Linked DNA regions of Homo sapiens. The protein of the gene in region 5 purifies or fractionates together with the protein of the main gene of each other region. This does not show direct contact. Each region holds a gene or a part of one and is shown on either strand. Other genes may lie near its edges. The genes, in order: CMTM6, LETM1, ALG1, ICMT, SLC23A1, GALNT2 and HACD2.

Region 1 (4,029 bases), on a different chromosome or scaffold from region 5:
ACAGAGTTTCGTTCTTGTCACCCAGGCTGGAGTGCAATGGCACGATCTCGGCTCACTGCAACCTTGTGCTTCCTGGGTTTAAGTGATTCTCCTGCCTCAGCCTCCCAAGTAGCTGGGATTACAGGTGCCTGCCACCACACCCAGCTAATTTTTGTATTTTTAATAGAGATAGGGTTTCACCATGTTGGCCATGGTGTTCTTGAACTCCTGACCTCAGGTGATCCACCTGTCTTGGCCTCCCAAAGTGCTGGGATTACAGGTGTGAACCACCGTGCCCGGCAAGAAAACCTCTTACATTTTATATAAATGTTAAGTGAATGATTGACAATTTAGGAATTCTGTGTTAAATAGTTTTATTGATTTTTTTTTTTTTTTTTTTTGAGATGGAGTCTCGCTCTGTCGCCCAGGCTGGAATGCAGTGGTGTGACCTTGGCTCACTGCAACCTCTGCCTCCTGGGTTCAAGTGATTCTCTTGCCTCAGCCTCCAGAATAGCTGGGACTACAGGCACCCACCACCACGCCCAGCTAATTTTTTTTGTATTTTTAGTAGAGACAGGGTTTCACCATGTTGGTCAGGCTGGTCTCGAACTCCTGACCTCGTGATCTGCCCGTCTCGGCCTCCCAAAGTGCTGAGATTACAGGCGTGAGCCACCGTGCCTGGCCAGTTTTATTGATATTAGGTTTAGTGGAGTTTGCAGTTCAGAAAACTCAAAAAGTATCAGACTTAAAACCCTTTGGAGTGGCTATCATTTTACCAAGTTTCCCTTTCTGAATCAAGTATATATGTCATTACTGTTTTCAGTTGGCATATGAGAGCCTTGTGAGGTAATGCCTGAGAGAGCACTTGGAAACCCATGAAACATCTCATGATTGTAAGCTGCATTATGATAAGATATGGAAGCTTTTATGTAGTAGATAAACTCATCATATAAGCTCACTGTAGATTACCCACTTGGAACAGTTGAAGGCAATGTGTTATTCCAGAAAGCTTCAGTGTCTAAAAAACACACTATTGGCATACTTCTATTTAATAACGGGTGGTTTTTAAAATTCTTTCTTTTAGAAAGTGCTTTCAAAGCATTGGAGTGCTCTCAGAGATGTCATCCTACCATAAAATACTTTGAAAGGAAAGAAAAATGCTTTTTTGCTGGAAGTAAGATGGAATTGTAATAAATGCTTTGGCTTAGATAATTTTAATATGTCCCAGAGAAAAAGAGGACACACACAAACACTTGCACGAGATACACACGAGATCTTTTCCGGGACTGTTTTTTTTTTTTTTTCTTTTTTTGGACTGGATAATAAAAAATGTCCCAGTTAGCTGGGACTACAGGCTCATGCCACCTCTCCTGGCATAGGGGATTGTTGTTATTAAAAGTTTATCTTGTAATGTGTTCTCTCAATAATCCCAGCCCAGTGTGGATACTGTTTTTTTACAGGGTATTTATTGAATGCCAGGCTTATTGAAAAGTTAGAAGTTTGGGTATGTAAGTTTGGGTTGTATCAAGAAAAACAAGTAAGTAGCCAGAGCTTTTTAAAGTTAAAAATGAAAAAGTTCATTTCCATGAATCTAACTGTATTGTATTCCTTTTGTGTTTTGTATGTATGCATAGGATTTTTATATTACTTTGGGAACAGGATGTGTGTTTTTGTTGGCATCCATCATTTTTGTTTCCACACATGACAGGACTTCAGCTGAGATTGCTGCAATTGTAAGTACCTTGTATTTTTAACATTGCTTATTTTTGTTTCCTTAGAAATATGGAATTTGGAGAGTACTTGACAAGTTATACAGCATGTTAGAGTTGTTTTTCTTATAACTTACTTTTTAGTGTAATTTTGAATAGAAGACCTACAAGCAAATCAATATGATAGCCTTTAAAACCTAGAGCCTATAGAATTTGACTGAATTTTGTTTAAAAAAAATCCACTTACTCCACATACCGTGTGTTATTGCTAATGGAAGTGGTAAAATTGACTTTATTATTTTATATTTCTCCACTTTCAGTTCAATAAATGCACACCTACATGCCAGGTGTTTTCTAGGTATGGAGAATATATGGGAGAAATGATTCAGAGACTCAGTCTAGAAAAGGAGACGGAAAAGTAAAATTGTAATGGAGTTTGTTAAATGAACCAATAGCAGTTGTTCTGAGACTGGGTGCCGTGGCTCAGGCTTGTAATCCCAGCACTTTGGGAGGCCAAGGTGAGAGAATCACTTGAAGCCAGGAGTTCAAGACCAGCCTGGGCAAGCAACATAGTGAGACCTCATCTCTATAAGAAGAAAAAAAAAAATAATAGAAAAAAAAGTTGGTCTAGACAGCAGTTTTCAGTGGGTTATACATATCCTTAAAGTTTCATCAGACTTTTCAAGGAGTATGAGGCAGAGATAGTGTTGAGGAAATTAATTTCCAGCTTTTAAACCTCCATATGTAATCTTTTTTAAAACTTGTATGTCTGAGAATTTATCTCTGGTGAAGGAGTCTCACCGGCACTTTTCCACCTTCCCATTCACAGTCGCCACCTACCTTGCCCCTCAAAAAGAAAAAAAACTTGCTTGTCCTGAATCTTGCTGGATTAGTTCCTTCTTGCCCTGCTATATAGAAATACCTGACACTGGGTAACTTATAAAGAAAAGAGGTTTAATTGCCTCATGGTTCTGACAGCTCTATAGGAAGCATAGCAAGGGAGGCCTCAGGAAATTTACAGTCATGGCAGAAGGCGAGGCGGAAGCAGGCACATCTTACATGGCCAGAGCAGGAGGAATAGAGAGAGTGGGGAGGTGCTACACACTTTTAAACAAGCAGATCTTGCAGTAACTCACTATTACAAGAACAGCGCCAGAGGGGGAGTCTGCCCCATGATCCTGTCACTTCCAGCTAGGCTCCACCCCCAACATTGGGGATTATAATTTGACATGAGAATTGGGTGGGGACACAAACCCAAGCCATATCACTTATTATGGTGGATTACCCTGAATTGTAAAACAAAAAAACCCTTGAGTACAACAAAGAGACAGTTGAAAATAAAGATCCAATTTTTCTCTGAAATTCTTGGGGCCAGAATTTTTTTCTTTTGGATTCAGAATATTCTGGATTTTAGAAAGGTAGTGCTGTACATATGCTATATTACACAACACCACTTGAGGGCCTGCGACAGTACCCTGTAATCTAACATTGGTATATCTGAAGTAAAACATATGAATATTTATAGTAAAAGGGATAAGAAAAGACTAAGTAGTCTTACTCCATGTAAATAGGCTTACTTTGTGTCAATTTTGAGCCAAGTGAATCATGAAAACCTTGAGTTAATGTAGTTCTTTGGGTTTCGGAATTGTAAATTAAGGATCATGGCCTTGGACTGGTAGCAGTGCTGTGAACTTGAATGACTAGCAACTGGACAACAAATCATCTTGCAAGTCAGCTGGTTTCCAATTAATACTTTGTTTTTAACAAAATTGAAGTTAGGCCGGGCGTGGTGGGTGGTGGGTCAACGCCTGTAATCCCAGCACTTTGGGAGGCCAAGGCGGGCGGATCAGGAGGTCAGAAGTTTGAGACCAGCTTGGCCAATATAGTGAAAGCTTGTCTCTACTAAAAATACAAAACTTAGCCGGGCATGGTGGCAGGCGCCTGTAGTCCCAGCTACTCGAGAGGCTGAGGCAGGAAAATCGCTTGAACCGAGGAGGCGGAGGTTGCAGTGAGCCAAGATTGTGCCACTGCACTCCAGTGTAAGTGACAGAGTGAGACTCCATCTCAAAAACCAAAAACAAAATTGAAGTTGTAATTAATAGAGTTGTCAGCTAATACATCATTAAAACTGCATTTTATGATAGAAAACTCAAAAGGAGTTCAGAGAATTGCATGGCTATATTTATCTATTCATATGACAACAGTTTCTTAGCACTTACATGTGTAAAAACAAAACATAGAAATAAAATTAACACTGAATCTTGATTCATTCTAGCAATAAGCAATATTTATTCATGGGTACATGAACCAATAGAAGAGAAAAATCAAAGTTTTAATAGGG
Region 2 (4,029 bases), on a different chromosome or scaffold from region 5:
TCGCCCTGTCACCCAGGCTGGAGTGCAGTGGTGCGATCACGGCTCACTGCAGCCTCAAGTTCCTGGACTTAAGTGATCCTCTTGTCTTAGCTCCCGAATAGCTGGGACTACAGGCTAAGCCACCACATCTGACTAATTTTTTTTTGTTTTTTATAGACAAGATCTGCTATGTTGCCCAGGCTGGTCTCAAACTCCTGGGCACAAGTAATCCTCTTGCCATGACCTCCCAAAGTGTTATTATGGGTGTGAGCCACTGCTTCCAGCTCAATGTATTTTAAAATACAGGTTTTCTAGACCAGGAACACTCCCCTACCGGTGCTATAGGGGAGTCATGAGGTCCTTCTAGGGCAGGGTCAGCCAGCTGCAGCCCACAGGCCAGATCAGGACCCTGCCTGTTCTCAGCAGAGCCCTGTGGGGACCTGCGATGCCCAGTCATGTGTCTTGTCTGTGAGGCACCAGCAGAGTTAAGCATTTGTTTTAGACCACACAGCCATGAAGGCCAGACGCCTTCCTGTCTAGCCCATTACGGAAAGTGTGCCGATCCTTGCTTTAGGGAATCACACGAGTTTGTTTGTTTTTGTTTGTTTGTTTGTTTGTTTTTGTTTTGTTTTTGTTTTTTTTTTGAGACGGAGTTTCGCTCTGTCACCCAGGCTGGAGAGTGCAGTGGTGCAATCTCAGCTCACTGTAGCCTCCACCTCCTGGGTTCAAGCGATTCTTGTGCCTCAGCCTCCCAAGTAGCTGGGATTACAGGTGTGCATGCCTGGCTAATTTTTGTGTTTTTAGTAGAGACGGGGTTTCACCGTGTTGGCCAGGCTGGTCTCAAACTCCTGACCTCAGGTGATCCACCCACCTTGGCCTCCCAAAGTGCTGGGATTACAGGCATGAGCCACTGTGCCCGGCCCACACGGGTACTTTTTAAAACCATGAAATAAAAGAGTTTGAGAATGTATTGCACTTAGATGAGAGTCAGTGTGTTGTGAAATGTTTCTGGGAGTGGGGGTCGGGCACAGGCGTGAGATGTTTTCCTTGCCCGAACCACAGTCTGAGCAGTTGGAATGCAGTGCCCTCTCTGCCCTTGCAGGAGGAGAGGCTGAAGAAGGAGCTTCGGGTCAAGCTGGAGCTGGCCAAGTTCCTCCAGGACACCATCGAGGAGATGGCCTTGAAGAACAAGGCAGCCAAGGGCAGCGCCACCAAAGACTTCTCTGTGTTTTTCCAGAAGGTGCTGTGATACGTCTGAGTCCCTGTGACCTCACCAGGGAGCCTTCCCTGATTTTCTGTTTCCCTTTCGCTGTGCTCAGCAGAGTGGAGCTCCCCCAGGTGCTGGCTGGCGCTTGAAAGTTTACCCAGGAGGCTCAGTCGGGGGCCAGTGGAGTGTCAGGAGTCTGCCCCCACGAGCTCCCAGTGAGTTAAGCTGTGGTGGCTGCGCCTCGTCAGCCTTCAGAATTATGGGCGTCTGTGTCTCATCACCCTGCAGCTGTCCAGGAGCAGTAGAATCTGACCCATGAGGAGCCTGAGACCCTGATGGTGTGAGGTGTGGGTGGCTTGGCCGGGCTCCTCTGCTGGGCATTGCCCTCTGGCTGGAGTCAGTCAAGAAGATCCCAGGTCCCAGGGGCTGGTCAGAGGCCTGGACTGTGGGAGCAGTGGGGGCTGGAGAGGAGGAGCGGCCCTTGAGGTTTCCTGCGGTCATGTGGTGAGTGAGGTGAGGATGGGGAGACGGCAGCTGCCACGGACCGAGATCCCTGAGGACTAGATGGGGTTCACGAGGCCGGTGTTGTTGGCTTGAGGGACTTGTGCCACTTTGGAGTGAGAAGGATGTGTCTGAAGTGCAGGAAGAGCTTAAACCAGGGCCTAGAAACTCCAGCCATGCGTGTGCGTTGTCTGTGGGGTTTTCCCGCTGCAGCACAGAGGCGAGTGGTTTCCATGGCTGCAAAGCCAGAAATACTTGCTGTCTGGCCCTTGACAGAAAAGACTGCCAGGCTGAGGCCTAACCACGGAGAAGCCTCTCGGGAGGAGGCGACACAGCCATGGGGCTGCTGAGCCCCCCAGGGAGTGGGTGGTGGTTCCAGCAAGATGTTTTAGGGGGAGCCATGCTTTGGGAGCCTCACCCAGGACATCGTGCCTTGCAGAGCAGGAGGGGCCCGTCCCAACCTTTCCTGGGCCGCCCAGCTGCCAAGAAGGATGTGCTTGCAGTCACCTGCACGGGGGTGTGCTGCATAGGGCCGCCCCCAGGAGCACACCTGAAATTGTGTCTCAGAGCTGGCATCCTGCATGTTACGATTTGAGTTGGGCACCAAGTCAGCCTCGTCCTCCCTCATCTGTCACCTCTGCTAGGTACCCTCCTAGCCCAGCTCTTGGCAGAGACTGAGCTGGTGGCTTGTCCCTCAGGTGGTAGGAACTGCAGAGGATCACCCAAAGGGCCCTGAGTGATCCACGCTAAGGGACTCTAGCTCTCCCTAAAGAGCTAGATGGCCACCCCTCCCCCAAGGCTCAGGCAGTCATCCGTGGGAGATGTAGGTGCACACAGGTGCACCTCTTCCTGCCCCAGAGCAGCAGGGTCCCGGCCACTTCTGTGGCAGAGAGAGGATCACAGGACCTGCATGCAGCAGCCTGTGGGCCCGGGCGTCTCCCCCAGCAGACAGCAGCCTCAGCTTTGCTGGTTCAGGCAGGAGAGGTCCACAGGCCAGACGCCACCTTTCCCCAGGCTAGCCCAGCACCGGAGTCAGAAGTCAGTGGTTTGAGGCCAAGCTGGGCAGGTGACTTGAGGTCGGGTATTTGAGACCAGCCTGGCCAACATAGTGAAATCCCATCTCTACTAAAATACAAAAATTAGCTGGGTGTGGTGGCGCAGCCTGTAATCCCAGCTACTCGGGAGGCTAAGGCAGGAGAATCCCTTGAACCCAGGAGGTGGAGGTTGCAGTGAACCGAGATTACACCACTGCATTCCAGCCTGGGTAACAGAGCGAGACCCTGTCTCAAACAAAAAAAAAAAAGAAGAAGTAGTCAGTGGTTTGAGTCCCTGAGGATGAGAGGCAGCACCCTTTGGGAATGTGGTTGGTCGTGGGAGGGAGCCGGGTGGGCGCGTGTCCCGGGGATGACCCTTGTGACCACTTCCGCAGATCCGGGAAACAGGGGAGAGGCCCAGCAATGAGGAAATCATGCGTTTTTCCAAATTATTTGAGGATGAGCTGACCCTGGACAACCTGACACGGCCGCAGCTGGTGGCCCTGTGCAAGCTGCTGGAGCTACAGTCCATCGGCACCAACAACTTCCTGCGCTTCCAGCTTACCATGCGGCTGCGCTCCATAAAGGCAGACGACAAGGTGAGCCTGGCCATACTCCGCGCCACAGCTCTGGTGTTTTACCTTTTCGTTTCCTGATGATAAAAGCAGCATGTCCTCATTGTAGAAACTCTGGAAGATGCTGAACGATCGAAAATAAGCTCACTAGGAGTCTTGCCACTTGCAGATTGCAGATCCTTTGAAGATGGATGTCTTTTCTCTGGCACCTTCTCGGATGATCTCTCTGTTTGGATTTCGTCAGATTTATAATAACTTGCTTAGTTGTGTCTGTCTTTGTGTTCATCCTGCTTATTGATGACAGTGCCTCTGTGCCTCTCTCCTCACATCAGGGTCTTCATCGAGGGTCCATTTGCCCCTTTGCCCTGTCCTGTCCATCGCACGTGCTTGCCTCTGTGCTTCACGCCCTTTTGTGCTTTCAGGGCGCTGCCCTCCTTCTAGGTCTGATTACTCCTTTTTTTTTTTGAGACGGTGTTTCGATCTTGTTGCCCAGGTTGGAGTGCAGTGGCGAGATCTCGACTCACTGCAACCTCTGCCTCCTGGGTTCAAGCGATTCTCCTGCCTCAGCCTCCAGAGTAGCTGGGATTACAGGCGCCCGCCACCATACCCGGCTATTTTTTGTATTTTTTAGTAGAGACAGGGCTTCATCACATTGGCCAGGCTGGCCTCAAACTCTGGACCTCAAGCGATCTGCCCACATCGGCCTCCCAAAGTGCTGGGATTACAGGCATGA
Region 3 (4,584 bases), on a different chromosome or scaffold from region 5:
TCCAGCCTGGGCGACAGAGCTAGACTCTGCCTCTAAAACAAACAAACAAAAACCAAACAAACAAACAGAACCAACCTGAAAAGTCCAAGATCATCAATAATCAAGGAGGCAAAAAACAGAACAAAGAGATGGCATTTTTCACCTGTTGGAATGCAAATTCTAAAAAGGTCTAACAACAGCTGGTGATGGTAAGCATGGGGGAGAAGAGGTACCCCCACTCAGCGGGGGCCAAACTGACCCAACCTTACTCTAAAGCTATCCAGTAACATACACATTTTTAAAATGCATCAACTTTGACTACACAATTCCACTGCTGGGAAGTTACCCTAAGAAAGAAACTGGACTTATACAAAAGGCATATGCTCGCTGTGCTTGGAGCCACACTATTTGTAAAAGTAAAAACAAAATCAGGAAGAATCTGAGTATCCATTAACATGAGACTAAATACATGCAGTATAGTACATCACATATTGGAATTCAAGGCTGCCTATTAAAAGAGGAAGGTGTGGGTCACGATGGTTCATGCCTGTAATCCCAGCAATCTGGGAGGCCGAGGCAGGTGGATCACCTGAGGTCAGGAGTTCAAGACCATCCTGGCCAGCATAGCGAAACCCCATCTCTACTAAAAAAAATTACAAAAATTAGCCAGGCATGGTGGCACATGCCTGTAATCCCAGCTACTCAGGAGGCTGAGGCAGGAAAATCACTTGAACACGGGAGGTAGAAGGTGCAGTGAGCCAAGATCGCACCACTGCACTCCAGCCTGAGCAACAGAGACTCCATCTCAGGAAAAATAAAAATAAATAAATAAAAGAGGAAGGTGCTTCTATATATTAAAAATTGATTTAAAAAAAAAAGTATTCTTCCTTCAGCTAGAAAAGAAAGAAAAATTTTTTAAAGAAAAAGTGATCAAGGGAAGGGATTAAAAGTATAACGATAGGCCAGGCGCGGTGGCGCACGCCTGTAATCCCAGCACTTTGGGACGCCGAGGGGGGCGGATTACCTGAGGTCAGGAGTTCGAGAACAGCCTGGCCAACATGGCGTAACCCCATTTCTACTAAAAATACAAAAATTAGCTGGGCGTGGTGGCGGGCACCTGTAATCCCAGCTACTCAGGAGGCTGAGGCAGGAGAATCACTTGAACCCGGCAGGCAGAGGTTGCAGTGAGCCGAGATCACGCCACTGCACTCCAGCCTGGGCGGCAAGAGCGAAACTCTGTCTCAAAAAAATATATGTGTGTTTGTGTGTGCGCGCGTATGCGTGCGTGTGTATACTATAGAACCACACTGACGACCTACGTTCAAATCCTGATTCCACCACTTCCTAGCTGTATGGCGATGGGCTACTTACAGAGCCTTTCTCAGTCTAGGTTTTCTCATCTAAATGAGAACAACCTTAAGAAACAGGTTCTTGTATTACCTACATGCAATATTTCTTAGGGTAACTGTGAGGACTAAATGAGTTAATACATGGAAAACACTTGATACACAGTCAGTACAATGTAAGACTATCTGTAATGACACAGAGAGCATGGATAGGTGCCATAAATAGACACATACCATAGGCTCCTACTCATGTCTTTAAACGCCCATACACACAACACACACACATATGAATATGCAATATAGTACCAATTTGTGCTGGAAAGTAAACTGCTAACATGGCTCTCACAGAGGGAGGCAGAGGCTGATACACACCTGGAGAAAGATATAGGCACCTGGCTCCCTCCACATCAACTTCCACAGCAAGTACATAGCCTGAAGTACAACTTTGACTCCGTACTGGAAAACTCGGGGCCCAACTGCAAGTCAGAAAACACCTGTGACTACCAAAGGAGCGTCTGGCAATCTGCACGGCTTTTCAAACGAACACCCCCTGCCCCCAGCCCATGGATTCAGAGGATTCTGGAGTTGACGGCATCCTACCTGCAAGACTCTGAAGTTCTGTCAACCCCACAATCTGAATTCTGTTGTTCTGCAAGAGCTCATCATGGGGTTTGGAGTCTGAAAAATGAGAATGATCCCTTTAATGTACCAGAAGCAGCAATCTAAAGTCAGATAATCTCCCAACTCAGGCTGAATCACGGACAGTGTTTTGGAAAGTAAGATATTTCAAAACCTCTCTCTGCTCCTCACTAGCCAGAACAGAGAATGCGGCCAATTCTTGTTCAGATTGCTCTAGGAGGCACACAGAGATAGGGCCTGAATCTTACCTACCTTCACTTAACATGATGCCTGGCAAACAGTAGGTGCTCAATTAAACTAATCTAGATTGTCTGGATAGTGGAATTTTCCCACCACAGAGCCATCCCTAGGAAGTCCCACTCTACCCCATCACCCTAGGATAGCAGATTCTAAACAGGGATTAAAGGCAACTAGTGCTGTTCCCACTTCTTCCTGAGATGGGGTTGAGCTACCCTCTCAAGATACCAACGTGGAGAATAATGAGGGAGCAGACACCGCTGCCCTGCACACTGTGGGGAAAAGCTGGACATGAAGAACAAATGAAAACATCTGTCTGCAGAGCTCTGCGTTGAGGGATGAGGAATGAAATATCCTGTCAGCTCAGACATAGCCTGACAAGGGTAGCTGCACAGGGACGTAGCTACCAGCACTAGCCCTGGAGTTCCACGCACCTGGGTTCCACTTACTAGGAGAATTACGTGAGACCACGCAATGGATTCACTTAACACACTTCTGACACGTGGCAAGATTAACGCCGGCTATACCTAGAGACCCACCCAGGAAAGGCTGGGGCAGAACCGCTCGTCTAATCTCGGAGAGCTGCCCAAAGGCGGCGACTAAAGGAGCACTTCCGCCTCGACTCCCCGGGGCGGTTAGAACCGAGGATCAACGGCTGAGAGAGCATCGTCCCTCCCAGACCCTTGGCCACTCACTGCAGAACCCCAGGAGGGTCACCGAGAAGCCGTGCATGGCCAACGACAGCGCGTGGTACTGCATACGGGGGCTGCGGCCCACGTCGCCCAGCACCACCGCTACTACATGCCGGGCCGCCCGCCCCCGGCGCCAGCGCTTCCATCCTCCCAGCAGCAGCAGCGGCAGCAGCAGACACAGCGCCAGCAGGACCAAGCATGAGGCCGCCATCTTGGCTGGCCCGCAGCAGTCACGTGACCGCGCTTCCTCGCGCTGTGCGCAGCCGCAGACCGAGCCTCCGAAGTGGGCCGAGAGGGCGAGAAGTGGACGCGGTTCCCTAACAGGGGCCCGGGGAACCCCCAGGAGCCCCTCGGGGCCAAGAATTAGTAGTAGTAGGACACACGCACATACACCAGATTCCCTACACACCAGTGTATTTCCCCGACTAAAGTAAAGCTGTTACTGTATTGGGATCTAAGAACTCTCTTCAGGATTCAAAGATAATTTCAAAATATAGTGACACAAGAATTTGGATAAATTTCATCCTAACATTGATAAAGGAGCCAGATGCTGACGAGTACGAATTGTAGAGTTCCGTCTATGTAAATAAAAACCAGTCCTCGCTGTTAGAAGTTAGGGGCTGGTGGGTTCTGCTTCTGGATCTGGTGCTGGTAATGTGGGTGTGCTGCATTTGGGGCGGTACCTCAAGCAGCAGATTACCTGCCCATTTTCCAGGGTGTACATCACACTTAATAAAACATTTAAAAGGTAGAGAGGGGGAAGGACAAACAAGGAAGTAAACACCATCATGATTTTGCTTAAGTATCAATGGCTAGAAAGGAAATTTCCACAGTGACCCTCCAATTTCACCTCCCAAAGTAGCCATAGTGAGAGTTTAATGTGTGTCTCTGCGATGGCCTGTATTAGTCCGTTTTCATGCTGCTGATAAAGACATACCCGAGACTGAGCACTTTACATAAGAAAGAGGTTTCATGGACTTACAGGTCCACATGGCTGGGAAGGCCTCACCATCATGGCAGAAGGCAAGGAGGAGCAAGTCACCTCTTACATAGATGGCAGCAGGCAAAAAGAGAGCTTCTGCAGGAAAACTCCTTTTTATAAAACAATCAGGTCTCGTGAGGCTTATTCACTATCACGAGAACGGCACGGGAAACACCTGACCCCATGATTCAGTTACCTCCCACTGGGTCCCTTCCACACAACACATGGGAATTCAAGATGAGATTTGGGTGGGGACACAGCCAAACCGTATCATGACCTTTTTTCTTTGAAAGCGGTCCCTTGCAGAGAAACACCAAGAGCTCACTGGTGATGCTACCCCATTGCCTCCACTTGGGAGCTGCCGCAGAACCTGGAGAGCCACCACCCAGACCGTATTCAACAAACAAACAAGACTCCTCCCCTGATGAGGACCACAGGCAGCACCCACGGGACAGGGTAGCCCACATGGATGTGGCTCCCCAGTGTCCCTGGGCTCAGCTCAGGGCTTGGCACACTTTGCATCTGCTTTTCACAATTGCCCCATCACTCCCTTTCTATGGATTCAGAAGGGACAGCTCACGCCTTAAGCCAGACCTTGAAACCCGAGCTTTCAGAAGGAAAGGAAGGACGAGTAAGTATCTGCAGACAGCAGGGATGGGCATACAAACATGCTGGCAGCGGCATTTATCCTCCAGTTCCCAGCGAGGCC
Region 4 (4,029 bases), on a different chromosome or scaffold from region 5:
CGTGGAGTGCAGTGGCGTGATCATGGCTCACTGCAGCCTTAACTGCTTGGGCTCAAGTGATTCTCCCACCTCAGCCTCCCAAGTAGCTGGGACTAAGGGCACATGCCACCACACCCAGCTAATTTTTGTATTTTTTGTAGAGATGGGGTTTCACAATGTTGCCCAAGCTGGTCTCGAACTCCTGGCCCTTTCTTCCACCTTTAAGAACATCCTGGCCAGGTACGGTGGCTCATGTCTGTTAATTGCAGTACTTTGGGAGGCCAAGGAGGGCAGATCACCTGAGGTCAGGAGCTTGAGACAAGCTTGGCCAACATGGCGAATCCCCGTCTCTACCAAAAATAGAAAAATTAGCTGGGCGTAGTGGTGGGAGCCTGTAATCCCAGCTACTTGGGAGGCTGAGGCAGGAGAATTGCTTGAACCCAGGAGGCAGAGGTTGCAGTGAGCTGAGATCGCCACTGCATACCAGCCTGGGCGACAGAGCGAAACTCCCTCTCAAAAAAAACAAAGAACATCCTTCCCACTGATCTCCAGCCAAACAGTCCTTCAAGGCCAAAAGCATTCCCCAGCTCCTCAGGGAACCACTCACCTACACCTGCCCACTGGTCCCCTGTGGATGTGCATCTTCCCCAACATACATTTTCTGTATGTTTTCTGAATATATATTTTAGGCTCCAATACAGCCACCCGGAGAGCCAGGCTCATGTCCTGACCTCTCACACCTTCTCTTATTGAGCACTTACTATGTTCCCAGCGCCATGCTAAGCCCTTTACAATCATTACCCTGTTCAACTCTCATGGCAAACCTTTGAGGGCACGCTACTATCCCCACTTTGTTTTTTTTAAAATTTTATTATTTTTTAAAGACAGGGTCTCACTATATTGCCCAGGCTGGACTTGAACTCTTGGCCTCAAGCCATCCTCCTGCCTCAGCTTCCAGAGTAGGGGGAACTACAGGCATGTGCCACTATGTCTAGCTGCCCCCACTTTAACATGAGAGGAGAAGGAGGCCAAGCAGTGAATGTCAGAATCAGGACTGGCCCAGTCAGTGACTCCGGGGCCTGTACCCTCACATCTGGCATAGCTTGCTGGGGATACCCTACAGTGGGAGTTCTCTATAGCAGGCTGCAGCCTGTTACTAAGCCATGAAATCATTTAGTACATTATGAACAGTATTGAAATAATAAGATAGAAAACAGGATTTTGTAAACAGTAAGTGTAAGTATTATATCAGGAAAGACATGTTCCTTTCATACACACACAAGTGCTGGAGCACAATGTAAAAAAAATCTATGGGCAAAAAGGTATGGAAAACCCTTTGGTTCTAGTGCACACACATATACAGGAAGCAAGCATTTATGGCAAATTACATTATTCAGTCATAACTAATTTGTTCCCAGGGAAGGTGATTGTTAATGTGGCGGTTTTACATGTTTCAGAAACAAAAATTGTAAATGCTATGTGATCATTTGCCCCACCTATACCGTTAGGGGTCACCAGAGTCACCAAGGACCATGCATTGCTGATGGGATGCCTGAGAGATCTCTGGATTTGCCCAAAGACTTGGAGACTTTTCCCAAACACTTCGTGAATTTTCCAAGATCTATTCACATTCTTTGGCCAAGTTTTTCTAGGACCAAGAGTAAAGAATCAAGAAACAGTTTCAAGAAATAAGGCGGCCAGGCGCGATGGCTCACGCCTGTAATCCCAGCACTTTGGGAGACTGAGGCAAGTGGATCATGAGGTCAGGAGATTGAGATCATCCTGGCTAACACAGTGAAACCCCGTCTCTACTAAAAATACAAAAAATTTAGCCAGGCATGGTGGCGGGCGCCTGTAGTCCCAGCTACTCAGGAGGCTGAGGCAGGAGAATGGCGTGAACCCAGGAGGCGGAGCTTGCAGTGAGCCGAGATTGCGCCACTGCACTCCAGCCTGGGCGACAGAGCGAGACTCTGTCTCAAAAAGAAAAAAAAAAGAAATAAGGCTTTGGGTTGGGCATGGTGGATCATGCCTGTAATCCCAGCATTTTGAGAGGCTGCAGTGAGAGGACTGCTTGAGCCCAGGAGTTCAAAATCTGCCTGGGCAACACTAAGACCCCATCTCTACAAAAAACAAAAAGTTAGCTGGGCATGGTGGTGCACACTTATAGTCCCAGCTACTCAGGAGACAAAAGCAGAAGGTCTGCTGGAACCCAGGAGTTTGAGACTAGCTTGGGCAACACAGCGAGATCTCATCTTTAATACACAAATAAATAATTTTGTTTTCTGTTTTTAAGACAGGGTCTCACTCTGTTGCCCAGACTGGAGTACAGCAGCAATCAAAGCGATCCTCCTGCCTCAGCCTCCTGAGTAGCTGGGACTACAGGTGCACACTACAACTTCCAGATATATTTTTAGTTTTTTCCTCTGGAGAGAAGGGTTCTCACTATGTTGGCCAAGCTGGTTTCTTTTTCTTTTTTTTTTTTGAGATGGAGTCTCGCTCTGTCGCCCAGGCTGGAGTACGGTGGCGCGATCTCGGCTCACTGCAAGCTCCGCCTCCCGGGTTCACGCCATTCTCCTGCCTCAGCCTCCCAAGTAGCTGGGACTACAGATGCGTGCCACCACACCAGGCTAATTGTTTGTATTTTTAGTAGAGATGAGGCTTCACTGTGTTAGCCAGGATGGTCTTGATCTCCTGACCTCATGATCTGCCTGCCTCAGCCTCCCAAAGTGCTGGGATTACAGGCATGAGCCACCATGCCCGGCCAGCCAAGCTGGTTTCTAATTCCTGGCCTCAAGCAATCCTCCTGCTCTGGTCTCCCAAAGCCACTGTGCCTAGCCAAATAGTAATTTTAAAAAAGAAATATGCGGGTTGGATGCAGTGGCTCACGCCTGTAATCCCAGCACTTTGGGAGGCTGAAGCGGGTGGATCATCTGAGGTCAGGAGTTTGAGAACCGCCTGGCCAACACAGTGAAACCCCTACTAAACCTACTAAAAATACAAAAAATTAGCTGGGCGAGGTAGTGCACAACTGTAATCCCAGCTACTCGCGGGGGCTGAGGCAGGAGACTCACTTGAACCCGGGAGGTGGAGGTTGCAGTGAGCCAAGATCGCACCACTGCACTCCAGCCTGGGCGACAAAGTGAGACTCTGTCTCAAAAAAAAAAAAGAAAGAAAAAGAAATACATGTGGTGGCTCACGCCTGTAATCCCAGCACTTTGAGAGGCCGAGGCGGGTAGATCACTCAACCGCAGGAGTTCGAGGCCAGCCTAGGCAACATGGAAAAACCCCGTCTCTACAAAAATACAAAAATTAGCCAGGGGCTGGGCATGGTGGCTCATGTCTGTAATCCCAACGCTTTGGGAGGCCAAGGCAGGCAGATCACCTGAGGTTGGGAGTTCGAGAACAGCCTGACCAACATGGAGAAACCCCGTCTCTACTAAAAATACAAAATTAGCCGGGTATGGTGGCGCATGCCTGTAATCCCAGCTACTCAGGAGGCTGAGGCAGGAGAATCGCTTGAACCCGGGAGGCAGAGGTTGCAGTGAGCTGAGATCACATGATTGCACTCCAGCCTGGGCAACAAGAGTGAAACTCCATCTCAAAAAAATAAATTAATTAAAAAATACAAAAATTAGCCAGGTGTGATGACACACATCTGTAGTTTCAGCTACTTAGAAGGCTGAGGCAGGAGAATCACTCAAACCCGGGAGGCGGAGGTTGCAATGAGCCGAGATTGTGACACCGCACTCCAGCCTGGGCAGATACTTAGGAGACTAAGGTGGGAGGATCACTTGAGCCCAAGAGGTAGAGGCTGCAGTAAACCATGATCATGCCAATGCACTATAGCCTGGGTGAGAGACCCTGCCTCAAAACAAAACAAAAAACCATACATAAATAAAAAAAATACACACACACACACACACACACACACACACACACACACACATAGAGCAGGTGCAGTGGCTCACACCTATAATCCTTACACTTCTTTTTCTTTTTTTCTTTTTGAGACAGATTCTTGCTGTGTCACCCTGGCTGGAGTGCAGTGGC
Region 5 (4,029 bases):
AGCAGCCAGGTCATGACCTTTACATGGTGACTTACGGCTGATGTTTGCCCTTCCAGGTCCAGGGTGCAATCATGGTGTCCAGCGTGGTGGAGGTGGTGATTGGCCTGCTGGGGCTGCCTGGGGCCCTGCTCAACTACATTGGGCCTCTCACAGTCACCCCCACTGTCTCCCTCATTGGCCTTTCTGTCTTCCAAGCTGCTGGCGACCGAGCTGGCTCCCACTGGGGCATCTCAGCTTGGTGAGCAGGCACCAGGCCTGATCCCTGCCCAGCCCCAGCACCCTACCCTCTTCATGTCCTTGGTCCTTCTTCCCGGCTCCTGGCCCCAGCCTGGCCTCCCATCCACTTCCTGATTGTGCCTCTGCCCCCAGCTCCATTCTCCTGATCATCCTCTTCTCCCAGTACCTGCGCAACCTCACCTTCCTGCTGCCTGTCTACCGCTGGGGCAAGGGCCTCACTCTCCTCCGCATCCAGATCTTCAAAATGTTTCCTGTGAGGACCTGGCAGGCGGCTGGGGCTGGGACTATGGCCAGGGCTTGGGCTGAGGTGGGAGCAGGTTAGCCTGGACAGAGACCTCCAGTGCCTTCAGTGCCCCCTCACCCCCCTCCTTCAGATCATGCTGGCCATCATGACCGTGTGGCTGCTCTGCTATGTCCTGACCTTGACAGACGTGCTGCCCACAGACCCAAAAGCCTATGGCTTCCAGGCACGAACCGATGCCCGTGGTGACATCATGGCTATTGCACCCTGGATCCGCATCCCCTACCCCTGTGAGCAACACCCCTTGGGCCCCTCTGCCCCCAACTGAGACCACCTATGAGACAGACTCCTGGTGACCCCAATCCAGCAGGTGACACACCTAGCATTAGCCGCACATTTATAGTGCGCCCAGCAGAGTGGTGTTTTACTTAGACAAAGCTTCAGTCCCACTTCCTGGCTCTGAGTGACTCAAATAAGCTCCCACAACTGTATAGCTCCCATCCCAGCCTGAGGTCTCCTGATCTGCTCTTGCTCCTTCCAGCACTGCCCTGTCTATTCCTAACCATCACAGTCTCCTCACTGTAGCCACCATCCTGTCTCCCTCCGAGCACAGGTCAGTGGGGCCTGCCCACGGTGACTGCGGCTGCTGTCCTGGGAATGTTCAGCGCCACTCTGGCAGGCATCATTGAGTCCATCGGAGATTACTACGCCTGTGCCCGCCTGGCTGGTGCACCACCCCCTCCAGTACATGCTATCAACAGGTAGCCTACCTGCCCTCCTCAGTATCTGATCTCCTCAGGCGCCACCCAGGAAGCACACACAGGAACGGGGTGGAGGCCCAGGGGGTAGGCTTAGGCAAGTCGGGAACACGCTCCAGACCTCATTCTCCTTGTTTGTGCGATGGGGGTGCCCTCTCATCACCCCTCTGTCTTTGCTGGGAGTAGCTGAGAAGATGGTGGAGTCCAAAGGGAACCACCGTCATTGACAGCCCTCCATGTGCCCGGCTCTGACTGTGCATTCTTATGCAATCTTTGAAGCATTTTGTGAGACGGGCACCGGTATTTATCCCAGGAGGAAATTGAAGGCCAGAATTACCCACAGGAGTAAGTGCCAGGGCACTAGGACTAGCTCTGGAGCCTGAGCATTCTGGCCTGTAGTAGGGAGTGCTACAGCTGATAGCTGCAGCCCCCACAGCCCCAGAGGACGGCAGCTTGCTAAGATGATGGGGGAACACAGACTGGTGCAGAGGCTGGACCAAGCCCCGACTCTCCCTTTCCTTACAGGGGCATCTTCACCGAAGGCATTTGCTGCATCATCGCGGGGCTATTGGGCACGGGCAACGGGTCCACCTCGTCCAGTCCCAACATTGGCGTCCTGGGAATTACCAAGGTGTCGCGACGAGCCAGAGCCAAATCCTGCCCTAATTCCGTGGGCCGCAGGCCCCGCCCCAACTCGGTCCCCACTTTGGTTTAGCCCCACCCTGTCTTTGAGAGGCCTCGCCCCCGCATCAAGCCCCAGCCGGTTTATGCCTCGCTCTTATAACAGGCCCCGCCCCTGGAACTAACCCCGCCCCAGCCTCGTCCCCAGGTCTAGCTTCCCCGCTGGCTCCCCGGCAGGTGGGCAGCCGGCGCGTGGTGCAGTATGGTGCGGCTATCATGCTGGTCCTGGGCACCATCGGCAAGTTCACGGCCCTCTTCGCCTCGCTCCCTGACCCCATCCTGGGGGGCATGTTCTGCACTCTCTTTGGTGAGTGTCTGGCGCGGGCCACGGGTCGCGGTGCGGGTCGCCGAGTGGGACTCACCTGGATTACGCGTGTGCGGCGCCTCCAGCCGTTCTCTTGCGCCCTTAGGCATGATTACAGCTGTGGGGCTGTCCAACCTGCAATTTGTGGACATGAACTCCTCTCGCAACCTCTTCGTGCTGGGATTTTCCATGTTCTTCGGGCTCACGCTGCCCAATTACCTGGAGTCCAACCCTGGCGCCATCAATACAGGTGCCTCCAGCTGTTTACTGTCTCCAAAGGCGGGGTGGGCCCAAAATTTTGAGCACAGCCCCCTCCCTCAAAGGCTCCACACAGCTACAGCCACAAATCGTACCCAACTCTGGGTGTCAACCAGCAGCTGAGAGCTTGGGTCACAGCTGTCCTTTACTAAGACACTTCCTGTGGACAGATATTGACCTTTACATGTGCTTATTTAATTTTCAAAACAGCTCCATTTATCTACATTTATCATTTCTCCATTATCATTTCAACTTTACAGATGAGGAAGATGAGGCTCAGTGATTTGTCCCAGGTGAACAACTAGCAACTGGCAGAATTGGGACTTGAACCCAGAGATAGGAAAGACAGAGATAGGTTTGAGACAGGGCTTTGTACTGTTCCTTTGCCATAGCTGCACAAGAGGAAGTCCCTCAACTCTGCTCTCCAGATTGGGCCATGACACCCATTGGCCCTTGGCCTATTCCACAGGCATTCTTGAAGTGGATCAGATTCTGATTGTGCTGCTGACCACGGAGATGTTTGTGGGCGGGTGCCTTGCTTTCATACTTGACAACACAGTGCCAGGTATGGTTCGGTCCTGGGAGGGGAATGAAGAACTAGGCTGGACTCATGCACTCCAACAGATGGCCTCTGAGCTGGAGCTGTGTGGTTAGGTCCCATGCAATGCAGGCCCTGCAGGGAGCATCAGGAATAGATGGGCTGGTGGAGTGCTCACTGGCTGGAGGGAGAGAATGAGGCACAGACATGCCTCAGAGGTCTTGAAGAGGATGGGGCCGGAAGAGTCACTGCTGGGTCCTGTGAATCCTTTCCTCTCCACTTTTTCCATTTCTTTCCTTTTTTTTTTTCCGAGATGGAGTCTCGCCCTGTCACCCAGGCTGGAGTGCAGTGGTGCGATCTCAGCTCACTGCAACCTCCACTTCCCGGAGGGTTCAAGTGATTCTCCTGTCTCCTGAGTAGCTGGGACTACAGGTGGCTGCCACCACGCCCAGCTAATTTTCATATTTTTGGTAGAGATGGGGTTTCACCATATTGGGCAGGCTGGTCTTGAACTCCTGACCTCAAGTGATACGCTCGCCTCAACCTCCCAAAGTGCTGGATTACAGGCATGAGCCACTGCACCTGGCCTCCTCTCCATTTCTTAATAGCCACTGGGCTGAGGGATGTCTTTGCTTTCTTCAGAGTAGGACAGAGATAAATGCAGCATCAGTTTGTTGGCAAAATCCATCCACTCCAAATATGTCAGCAGCCTGCCACAATGGCGACTAGAAGAGCCACTAACATTTCCCTTTGGTACCAGAGCTTTTTGCAAAGATCGTGGAGGATACTTTGTGGGGCCCGCATAAAGATGCCAGTAAATATATAAAATAAATGTCACCAGGTGCTCTGATAACAAACAGTTAACATTTAGCAAACATATACTATGGGTAAGGCAGAGCTAAGTGTCTTACTTCATCCTCAAAAACCACAAAGTCATAAAGTCACAAAATTAAAACATCACGGCCGAGCATGGTGGCTCATGCCTGTAATCCCATCACTTTGGGAGGCTAAG
Region 6 (4,029 bases), on a different chromosome or scaffold from region 5:
CTTGGTCCTCCATTTTAATTGCTTAAATGACATAAGGACTTACATGATTAGGAAAATGGGAAGCTCTGGTCATTCCAGCGGGGCACACGTTGAGGAGGTGGTTTTGGATCTTACTCGGGCCTCTCTGCACCATACACCTCTCCCAATGCACACCCACAGAGGCCCCTCAGGTTGGCAATGGCTAGTAGTGTGCACGGCCCCCAGAAGCAGAAGCTAGAGCAGTGCTAAGGAGAAAGGCTCACGGCATGGCCTTCTCACGTGAAGCTCTTGAGCCCTCCAAACCTCACTGGGAGTCCAAGTCCTTGGCATAACCCAGGAGAGCCCCTCACGGAGGGACAGATGCCCCAGCCTTCCTGGGCAGAGATGTGCTCCTGCTTGCAGGGTTCATCTTCACCCCAACCTGAACCGCTCAGACCCTAGAACCTTCTAGCACAGCTACATAATAAATACAAACACCAAACCACAATAAAGCAGCTCCTTACAACAAATCTACCCCCCAGTCTCTGGGTGAATGCCTCCTTAGATATGTAAATCAACACTCTTCCTACACGATGACACAAAATGCTGGCTGATGTCTCATTTCAGCTAATAGTATGCAAACTTCTGAAAACCACACTGTTTTTGAGAAATGGCCACCTACACGATACGCTGCCCTACTGGGCGACCCTGGCCTGCTGGATTTCCACTAAACCATTAGGGGATACCCATGGAACAGGGTGACAGAACTCTCTTTAGAGGGTTAACAATTCTGAAGCCTTTTGTACTCAAGTGACTTCAATCCAAGCTTTCCCTAGAGGTTAATGTATCATTTTTTTAAAACAACCCAAAAGGAGTTTGACTCACGGTCTCTCCACCCGTGCAGTATAGTAATCGAGCCTAAAGAAGCTTTCAACATCAAACCAAGGCAGAGAAATCCTCAAAGATGAGATGGTATCACTGACTTCAACATCATAAAACAATGGAAAAATAATAGGCTAGGCTAGTCTTTTCTTTTAAAGTAACAAAAACTTTCAAAGTCTCAAAACTATTAAAAATGAGTGGCCTCATTTTCCCCTTTCCTTCTCCCCTGTCCTCCAGGGTACACTCACCCAAGGACGAATGTAAGTTAACAACACTCAGCAGCCCAGGAGAATTCGCTCAGAATGTCAAGCATTTGAAACAAAAGGCTTTAATTGAAACAAGCAAAAAAGATCTCCCCCACTCCAAACCCTAAACAAACAAAACACATCTTTTCATCTTTTATGCAGTAAATATAAGGCTACCAATATAGACCACAATGTGCAAAATTTTGCTGTGCCTAAACCTGGGTAAAAATAATTTGCATGGGGTATTTAAAAACAAAAAAACAAACAAACAGAAAAACAAATGAGAACCATTCGCAAAGGTAGTCGAGAAGGGATTAAGTGCCAAGGCCTCCCTGCCCCATCGGATTTTCATGATTTCAATTCAATCAATCCCACCAGCCTCGCCGGGGTTCATTTTCCACTCTCCACCACTCAGCATGAATCTGAGCTCCTGGACTGTTTCCCTCTGTTTTTGCAAGCCTGCAACATTCCAAACACTTGGGTTCAGACGCCTTGAAAGAGTTTGCATTTCCCTTCAAAGACTTTATCCGTATTCTGGCATCCTCCACTCTAACCTAGGGAGGCACATTTTAATGCCCAACTCATGAGACTTTCAAGAGCAAAAGGGGTGTTACATATGTGTTTGCAAGGATCGATTAAGCCCAGTGAATGGTCACTCTGAAGCCTTTTAAATTTTTTTTCCAATTGGCACCCTGCCTTTTGCAGAGCTGAGGCACTTCTCTGTCCTGAGATTTGAGGCTTGTACATACCTAGGTTCTCTCCTCCCCACACATCCATCATCATGTCGTACTTCCCCAGTTCTTCAAAATAGAACTTATCCATCACAAACAGCCCACCAGCAATCATGGGGGTTCTAAAGAGGCAGAAAGAAGAGGGGGGAGGGAGGAGAGGGCAAAGTCAAGGTTAGATTGCCAGCACCCTTGCGCCAAGGCCAAGCCTTGATTCCCTAACAATAAGCTGATCTTCAGAACAGCCACACTGCCACTGTTTTCTGCTCAGTGCCCAGCATGCCACTCTCTCTGCTTCACCACTGCTGCCTTCAAATGCCTCCCCCACTGTCCCTGCCTGGATGTTCCCACAGTGCCAGGGGCTGGACTGAGCCTCCCCTATGTGGGAGCGACTGCTGGGGCTGGATCACTACTCACTGACATGCTGCCATAGGCAAAGAACTCGGCCTTTCTGTGTGTCAGTTTCCTTATAGGGTAGCTACGAGGATTGCAAAAAATCATGGGCATAAAGCCCTGAGCACGCTTAGGAAATGCTCCACAGCACCAGCTCTCATTATCACTATCATAGATGAGACTCCACCTCCTACAAGGGAACCCACCATGCTCCTCACTTCATCATCCCAGGAAGGGGTTGACAACAGATGTACACTGAGCTCCCTACTTTGTTCCCAGAAGCGATGCTGTGCGAATTCAGTGTAAAGTGCTGGGAAGGTCTATGGCACACTGCAGATGTTGGCTAAATGTCAGCAAATATATTTCAGCGCTAAGTACTCTGTGAATGCTATCTCACTTAACCGTGTGCCAACTTGGAAGAGGTGGCCCCCTTCTCTCCCCAGCTAGAGAAGGCATCCTGACTCTCAACCAGAAAGCCCACCGCCCGGCCTGGGAATCTTAAAAGCATGGGCTTCATGAGCATGGGCTCCTTCCTCTGCAGGAGAGCAAAGGCCTGCTGGGCAGTAGCAGCAGTAAGCCTCCTGCTGCCCACCAAGCCCCTTTTCCTGGGCCTGGGGTCAGCTCGGAGATCCTGCTCTGCTACAGAAACGCTCTACATTATCAACATACAGGAATGCACAGACCTAGCAGATAGGCCTTATAAACCTATGTGAGACTTCAACTGTGGAAAAGAAATCTCCAAGGATTTTATTCTATGACCTGGTGGAAGGTGCTCATCTTTGAGCTGAGACGAGGGGAAACCGGAGGGCAGAAGGTGAACAGCCCCCACTGGGTCTCCAGGCGGTGCGGGCCCAGCAAAGAAGCTGGAACCTGGGGTCTCATCTGGGAGGGGCACCCTGAAGGATGCTGGCACTTACTTTATAGGGGCGACTGGGTTCCCCTGCCGGGACCTTCTCTGCTCAGGCGTCATGTAATCCCACTTGAATACCAAGTTCCAATCAAAACCTGCCAGCCAGGAAAAGAAACAGGGTGTTGACAAGAGACTGGCCACTTCCTCCCGACACCCCCATTCCTCACAGCTTAAAAATATTCGATGTTTGGACAGAACTCAATGAAAACCAAAACAAAGCCAAAAAAGAAGGTGTGGAGGAGAGAGAAGGGGACTGGGGGCGTGGGTGTAGCTGAAGAGAGAGACCGGCAGTGAGGGTGAATGTTGAAATCTTCTCCCTGCCCCTCCCTAAAGAAAATGTGAGTCAGGCTTTTCTAATATTGAAATGCATAGGAAAAAATGAAATATGGGGAGAGAACTGGGGTCTGTGTGGTGATAACCAGGGCATGTCCAAGGGCTGTAAGGATGTGAGGAAAAAGAGCATCCAACATGAAAATCAAGCCGTGGTACCTCCAACACTGCCCCAGGGGAAGGCAATGCTGGGGAGGGAACGAGGCTTTGTCAGTTCCCTGGGCCAGCAAACTTCAGACTGTATTTGCAGCAAGAATGGAGTGGGAACATGCTGGGAATATGAAAACTTTAAGGGAAAATGAGCCAGCGGAAGTTGCCAAGCTGGGCAAATAAGCTTCAATTTCAGATATATTTGGCACCTGTTGCATTTCATTTTTGGAATCCACAGACCCCTGAGGATAGAAGAGCCTAGACCCTGTACCCGGACTTGGTTGTGGGCATCTGCAGGGCCTCAGGTCTCGCTCTTGCTCCCAGGGTCACACACATAGTGCCTCTTGGAGGCCAGCAGGCTCCACCTGCGGAAGCTGTCCTGGTGCATCAGGAGGCCACTTCTTGGCAAACACATGGCTCATGGTGCTGCATT
Region 7 (4,029 bases), on a different chromosome or scaffold from region 5:
GCTACTCATTTATATCTCTTTATGCTAAATGTTATTCTTTATTAGGTTCTGTGGGAGTTTACTTAAAAAGGAAATCGAAATTACTTGTTCTCCAATTTCACATCTTCTTAAGAAAATAATAACACTTTGCTTTTTAAAAGACATAAAAACATTTACCAAGCAAGTACAAAGGAGCATGTAGTAGCAAGGTACAAAAGGAAGCCTGGCTGAGTACCATGGCTCACACCTGTAATCCCAGCACTTTAGGAGGCTGACATGGGGGGATTGCTTGAGGCCAGAAATTCAAGACCATCCTGGGAAACATAGCGAGACCCCATCTCTACAAAAAATTAAAAAATTGGCCAGGCATGGTAGCACATGCCTGTAGTCCCAGCTAATCAGGAGACTGAGGTGGGAGGATCACTTGTGCCCAGGAGTTCAAGGCTACAGTGAGCCATGATCGTGCCACTGCACTCCAGCCTGGGTGACAGAGCAAGACCCCATTTCCAAAAAAAAAAGTATCTATAAATAAAATGCTACTCATGGATAAAATGTGGTCTATGGATATAAACATTCATAAAATTAATAAAGGCAAATGAATTACTGATATATGCCTGGATAAATCTTGAAAAAATGCATGTGAAAGGAGGCAGATACAAAAAGTCACAAATAGTATGATTTCATTTATAAGAAATATCCAGAATAGGCAAATCCATAGTGACAGAAAGTAGAGGAATTGTTAGGGGCTGTGGGGAGAGAGAGTGGGGTGTGACTGCTAATGGTACAGGATTTCCTTTTAAGGTGATGATATTGTTCTTGAAATAGTGGTGGTGGGTGCACAACTCTGTGAACATATTAAAAACCACTAGATTGTACAGTTTAAAATTGTGAATTTTGTGGCATGTGAATTATATGTCAGTTTTTAAAAAACGAGTTCCTCTGTAATGAGTTGTGGGTGTTTTCTACTTTATTCATTTTTGGAGTCCATGATATTCATTGATGAGGCAGATGTTATCTTTGCATATTTGTCAAGTATAGTTAGATTAAAAATTAGTGGACTAATGCAGTTATGGCAGTTTAAAATTATGTTTGAGAGAATTTGGGTTTCTAAATATCTTTGGTTAACATAAGACTGTAATTATAGCAAAGACACTTTCTTTTTTTTTTTTTTTTTTGAGACAGAGTCTCACTCCATCGCCCAGGCTGGAGTGCAGTGGCGCGATCTCGGCTCACTGCAAGCTCCGCCTCCCGGGTTCACGCCATTCTCCTGCCTCAGCTTCCCGAGTAGCTGGGACTACAGGCGCCCGCCACCACACCCGGCTAATTTTTTGTATTTTTAGTAGAGACGGGGTTTCACCATGTTAGCCAGGATGGTCTCGATCTCCTGACCTCATGATCCGCCAGCCTCGGCCTCCCAAATTGCTGGGATTACAAGTGTGAGCCACTGCGCCCGGCCAAAGACACTTTCAAATACTCATGATTGGATATGCCTCTGTGATTGACAGTGAGATTTCAAATGGGTTAAAGATTGCTCTGCAAAGAGGTTAACTGTTGAGATTGATACAGGCTATCTTCAACATATGTACATTGCTGTATATGACATTTACCTACCATTGTGCATCTGGGACTTCCTGATGGACCACAGGAATTCCCTTTTCTTCCCATTCTCTTCCAGATCTTTCTTCTACTTGAAACCCCTTATCTACAAAAATGAATAAACAACCCAATCTCATTTCTGATCGTGTCCTGGAATTGATCTAGGGCAAGGTCTGGAGAAGTGGTGGGAGACAGCAGACAGCTTTTGTTAGTCTTCTAACCCCAGCACTTTCTCAGCCTCATCTGTGTGTTCCTGTCTCACTCTGCAGACCTCACTTCACAATGCTCTTCAGATCCTTTAATGAATAGGAAATTGATTTTGGGTATTTCTATAAAATACAGCAAAGTCTTAGAAACTTGCAGTGTCCTTAAGAAGAAAGATCCCTTCTTATCTCCCTGCCAGTTTTTCTTTCTTTATGGCTCAAACACTAACTGATTTTTGCCATGGAGGTATTGTGCTTCAGACTGCTTTTGTGAACTGGTTTGAGGACATAACCGTTGTCTGTTATATTTTTCCTTCTTGTGGAAACATTCTGATTTCCCAGTAATAGTCTCAAAAAGGAACTTCTGAAATGCAAGCTACATGCATGTGTTAGGCTCCTTTTATTCTGGACCCATTTTGAGGAAACACATCTCTAAAAGAGGCTTTTGAAAAGCTAGCAAGAGCAAGTTATAGTGTAGATATCTAACACAAATAGGAATGACAACAAATCCCAGAAAAACCAGCTTCTCAAACAGTGTGAAAACCAGAGGAAAACTCTAACTTGATTAAAATTAATAAGTGTCACAACATTAGAAGGGAAGAGAGAGCTGGAAGGAAACAGGAACCCACCCACACAGGCCTCACTGCTTGGTGACTCAAGCAAATAGAAGCAAATTGATGTGGTATTCAAAGAGGTACAATAGCTAACATCTGTAGAAGGGAATGTACTGAAATTAAAAAAAAAAAAGAACTAAAAATATCAATGGTGGCAATATAGGGCACGAAGGAGCCACAGTGCAAGAAATAGGTGATACTGAAGATTCAAAAAAGGCGGGAGTTTCCACTCACGTTCTCATATAAAATGAATTGCAGAACAGAAGTCATAGGGAAATTTTCAAAGTTCACCATGTAAAAGAAACATTACAAAACATTATAACAGAAAAACAATATATATAGAACCAATGTATCTAGAAAACCTGATGAGGTTGTATAAGCTTTCAAAAAGTAAGACTACCAGAGGAAGTAGAAAAGGTTGGAATATACAGCTTATAAATAATCAGGGAGAAAAGTTATAGAAAACTTTGCTGAACTGAAAGGCCACCTCACTATGGTTAGTGAGAGTTTATGGTGTTCCACAACAAAAAAATTTCTTCCCTTCCTGAGTACTTAAACAATTTCCAGCATAAAAGAGCAGATTTTAAAATGTAATAGTTAAAAACAACTTGGGACCTTAAACTTGAAAGAAGAAAAAATCCCCGTGTAGTAGGAAATATTAGGTTCCTGGATAACAGACCATGCAGTTTCCTAAAGCTGGAAACATTTTGAAAACACTTAGAAAAGCTAATGGAACTTTGAAAGCACCTTACCAAAGATTATTTAACTTTAATCAGAGTAGTTAGCTGTTATCAAAGAGTAACTGTTATATAAATAAATAAAATTAACCAAGTTTTCAGACTAGCACTGTCCAATAGGACTTTCTGCAGTGATAACGTTGGAACGCTGTCCAAAACAGTAGCCACTAGTCACTTAAAATGTGGCTAGTGGGTCTGAGAAACTGAGTTTTTAATTTTATTTACTTTTGGTCAGGAGTGGTGGCTGACACCTGTAATCCCAGCACTTTGGAAGGCCAAGGTGGGAGGATCGCTTCAGGCCAGGAGTTCAAGACCAGCTTGGGCAATATAGCAAGACCTCGCCTCTGCAAAAAATTTTAAAAATTTAAAAAATTAGCCGGATACAGTGGCGCATATTAGTCCTAGCTACTCGGGAGGCTAAGGCAGGAGAATCGCTTGAGCCCAGGAGTTTCAGGCTGAAGTAAGTTATGGTCACTCCACTGCACTCCAAGTCTAGGAGACAGAGCAAGACCCTGTTTTCCAAAAAAAAAAAAAATGAAAATTCTTTACTCTTTATTTAAGTTTAAATAGGCACATATGGCTAGTGGCTGCACAGTATAAGCCTTTAGACCACGGTACAGAATGCAGTGTGATCATGTGGAATCCCATAAGATATTTCAGATTTTACCAGGATAGAATGAAGTGGGAAGGAGGATAAACATAACGATGTAAATTTTGTATCACTCCAGAGTTCATAAATTTTTAAATTGATAATAGAATAGTTATATGCTGATGTTTTCAGATTAGGAAAATCAATAGGGAATAAAAGCACAATTGCAGATACTGAAAAAGGTATGGAAGAGTATATATCAAACTGTTAATTAGAGCTTACCTCTGGAGGGGCGTGGTATTTTGGGGCAA

What was found.
Region 1: the proteins of SLC23A1 (region 5) and CMTM6 purify together in Homo sapiens (affinity purification with mass spectrometry; one large-scale study listed by BioGRID and IntAct). This does not show direct contact.
Region 2: the proteins of SLC23A1 (region 5) and LETM1 purify together in Homo sapiens (affinity purification with mass spectrometry; one large-scale study listed by BioGRID and IntAct). This does not show direct contact.
Region 3: the proteins of SLC23A1 (region 5) and ALG1 purify together in Homo sapiens (affinity purification with mass spectrometry; one large-scale study listed by BioGRID and IntAct). This does not show direct contact.
Region 4: the proteins of SLC23A1 (region 5) and ICMT purify together in Homo sapiens (affinity purification with mass spectrometry; one large-scale study listed by BioGRID and IntAct). This does not show direct contact.
Region 6: the proteins of SLC23A1 (region 5) and GALNT2 purify together in Homo sapiens (affinity purification with mass spectrometry; one large-scale study listed by BioGRID and IntAct). This does not show direct contact.
Region 7: the proteins of SLC23A1 (region 5) and HACD2 purify together in Homo sapiens (affinity purification with mass spectrometry; one large-scale study listed by BioGRID and IntAct). This does not show direct contact.

What each region holds. Positions count from the first base shown.
Region 1 is NC_000003.12:32,485,621-32,489,649, reverse strand, and holds part of CMTM6 (CKLF-like MARVEL transmembrane domain-containing protein 6), read left to right. Parts: intron 1-1,613; coding exon 1,614-1,712; intron 1,713-4,029. UniProt on the Homo sapiens protein: Master regulator of recycling and plasma membrane expression of PD-L1/CD274, an immune inhibitory ligand critical for immune tolerance to self and antitumor immunity.
Region 2 is NC_000004.12:1,832,035-1,836,063, reverse strand, and holds part of LETM1 (mitochondrial proton/calcium exchanger protein precursor), read left to right. Parts: intron 1-1,081; coding exon 1,082-1,219; intron 1,220-3,116; coding exon 3,117-3,320; intron 3,321-4,029. UniProt on the Homo sapiens protein: Plays an important role in maintenance of mitochondrial morphology and in mediating either calcium or potassium/proton antiport. Mediates proton-dependent calcium efflux from mitochondrion.
Region 3 is NC_000016.10:5,070,370-5,074,953, reverse strand, and holds the start of ALG1 (chitobiosyldiphosphodolichol beta-mannosyltransferase), read right to left. Parts: upstream 3,112-4,584; 5' UTR 3,105-3,111; coding exon 2,897-3,104; intron 2,707-2,896; exon of another isoform or gene 2,651-2,706; intron 2,004-2,650; coding exon 1,926-2,003; intron 1,802-1,925; coding exon 1,698-1,801; intron 1-1,697. UniProt on the Homo sapiens protein: Mannosyltransferase that operates in the biosynthetic pathway of dolichol-linked oligosaccharides, the glycan precursors employed in protein asparagine (N)-glycosylation.
Region 4 is NC_000001.11:6,225,900-6,229,928, forward strand, and holds part of ICMT (protein-S-isoprenylcysteine O-methyltransferase), read right to left. Parts: intron 1-4,029. UniProt on the Homo sapiens protein: Catalyzes the post-translational methylation of isoprenylated C-terminal cysteine residues.
Region 5 is NC_000005.10:139,376,417-139,380,445, reverse strand, and holds part of SLC23A1 (solute carrier family 23 member 1), read left to right. Parts: intron 1-56; coding exon 57-238; intron 239-369; coding exon 370-490; intron 491-611; coding exon 612-768; intron 769-1,091; coding exon 1,092-1,239; intron 1,240-1,761; coding exon 1,762-1,867; intron 1,868-2,094; coding exon 2,095-2,224; intron 2,225-2,327; coding exon 2,328-2,471; intron 2,472-2,948; coding exon 2,949-3,044; intron 3,045-4,029.
Region 6 is NC_000001.11:230,248,366-230,252,394, reverse strand, and holds part of GALNT2 (polypeptide N-acetylgalactosaminyltransferase 2 precursor), read right to left. Parts: intron 3,212-4,029; coding exon 3,124-3,211; intron 1,939-3,123; coding exon 1,835-1,938; intron 1-1,834. UniProt on the Homo sapiens protein: Catalyzes the initial reaction in O-linked oligosaccharide biosynthesis, the transfer of an N-acetyl-D-galactosamine residue to a serine or threonine residue on the protein receptor.
Region 7 is NC_000003.12:123,574,746-123,578,774, reverse strand, and holds part of HACD2 (very-long-chain (3R)-3-hydroxyacyl-CoA dehydratase 2), read left to right. Parts: intron 1-4,029. UniProt on the Homo sapiens protein: Catalyzes the third of the very long-chain fatty acids (VLCFA) elongation four-step cycle (condensation, reduction, dehydration, and reduction).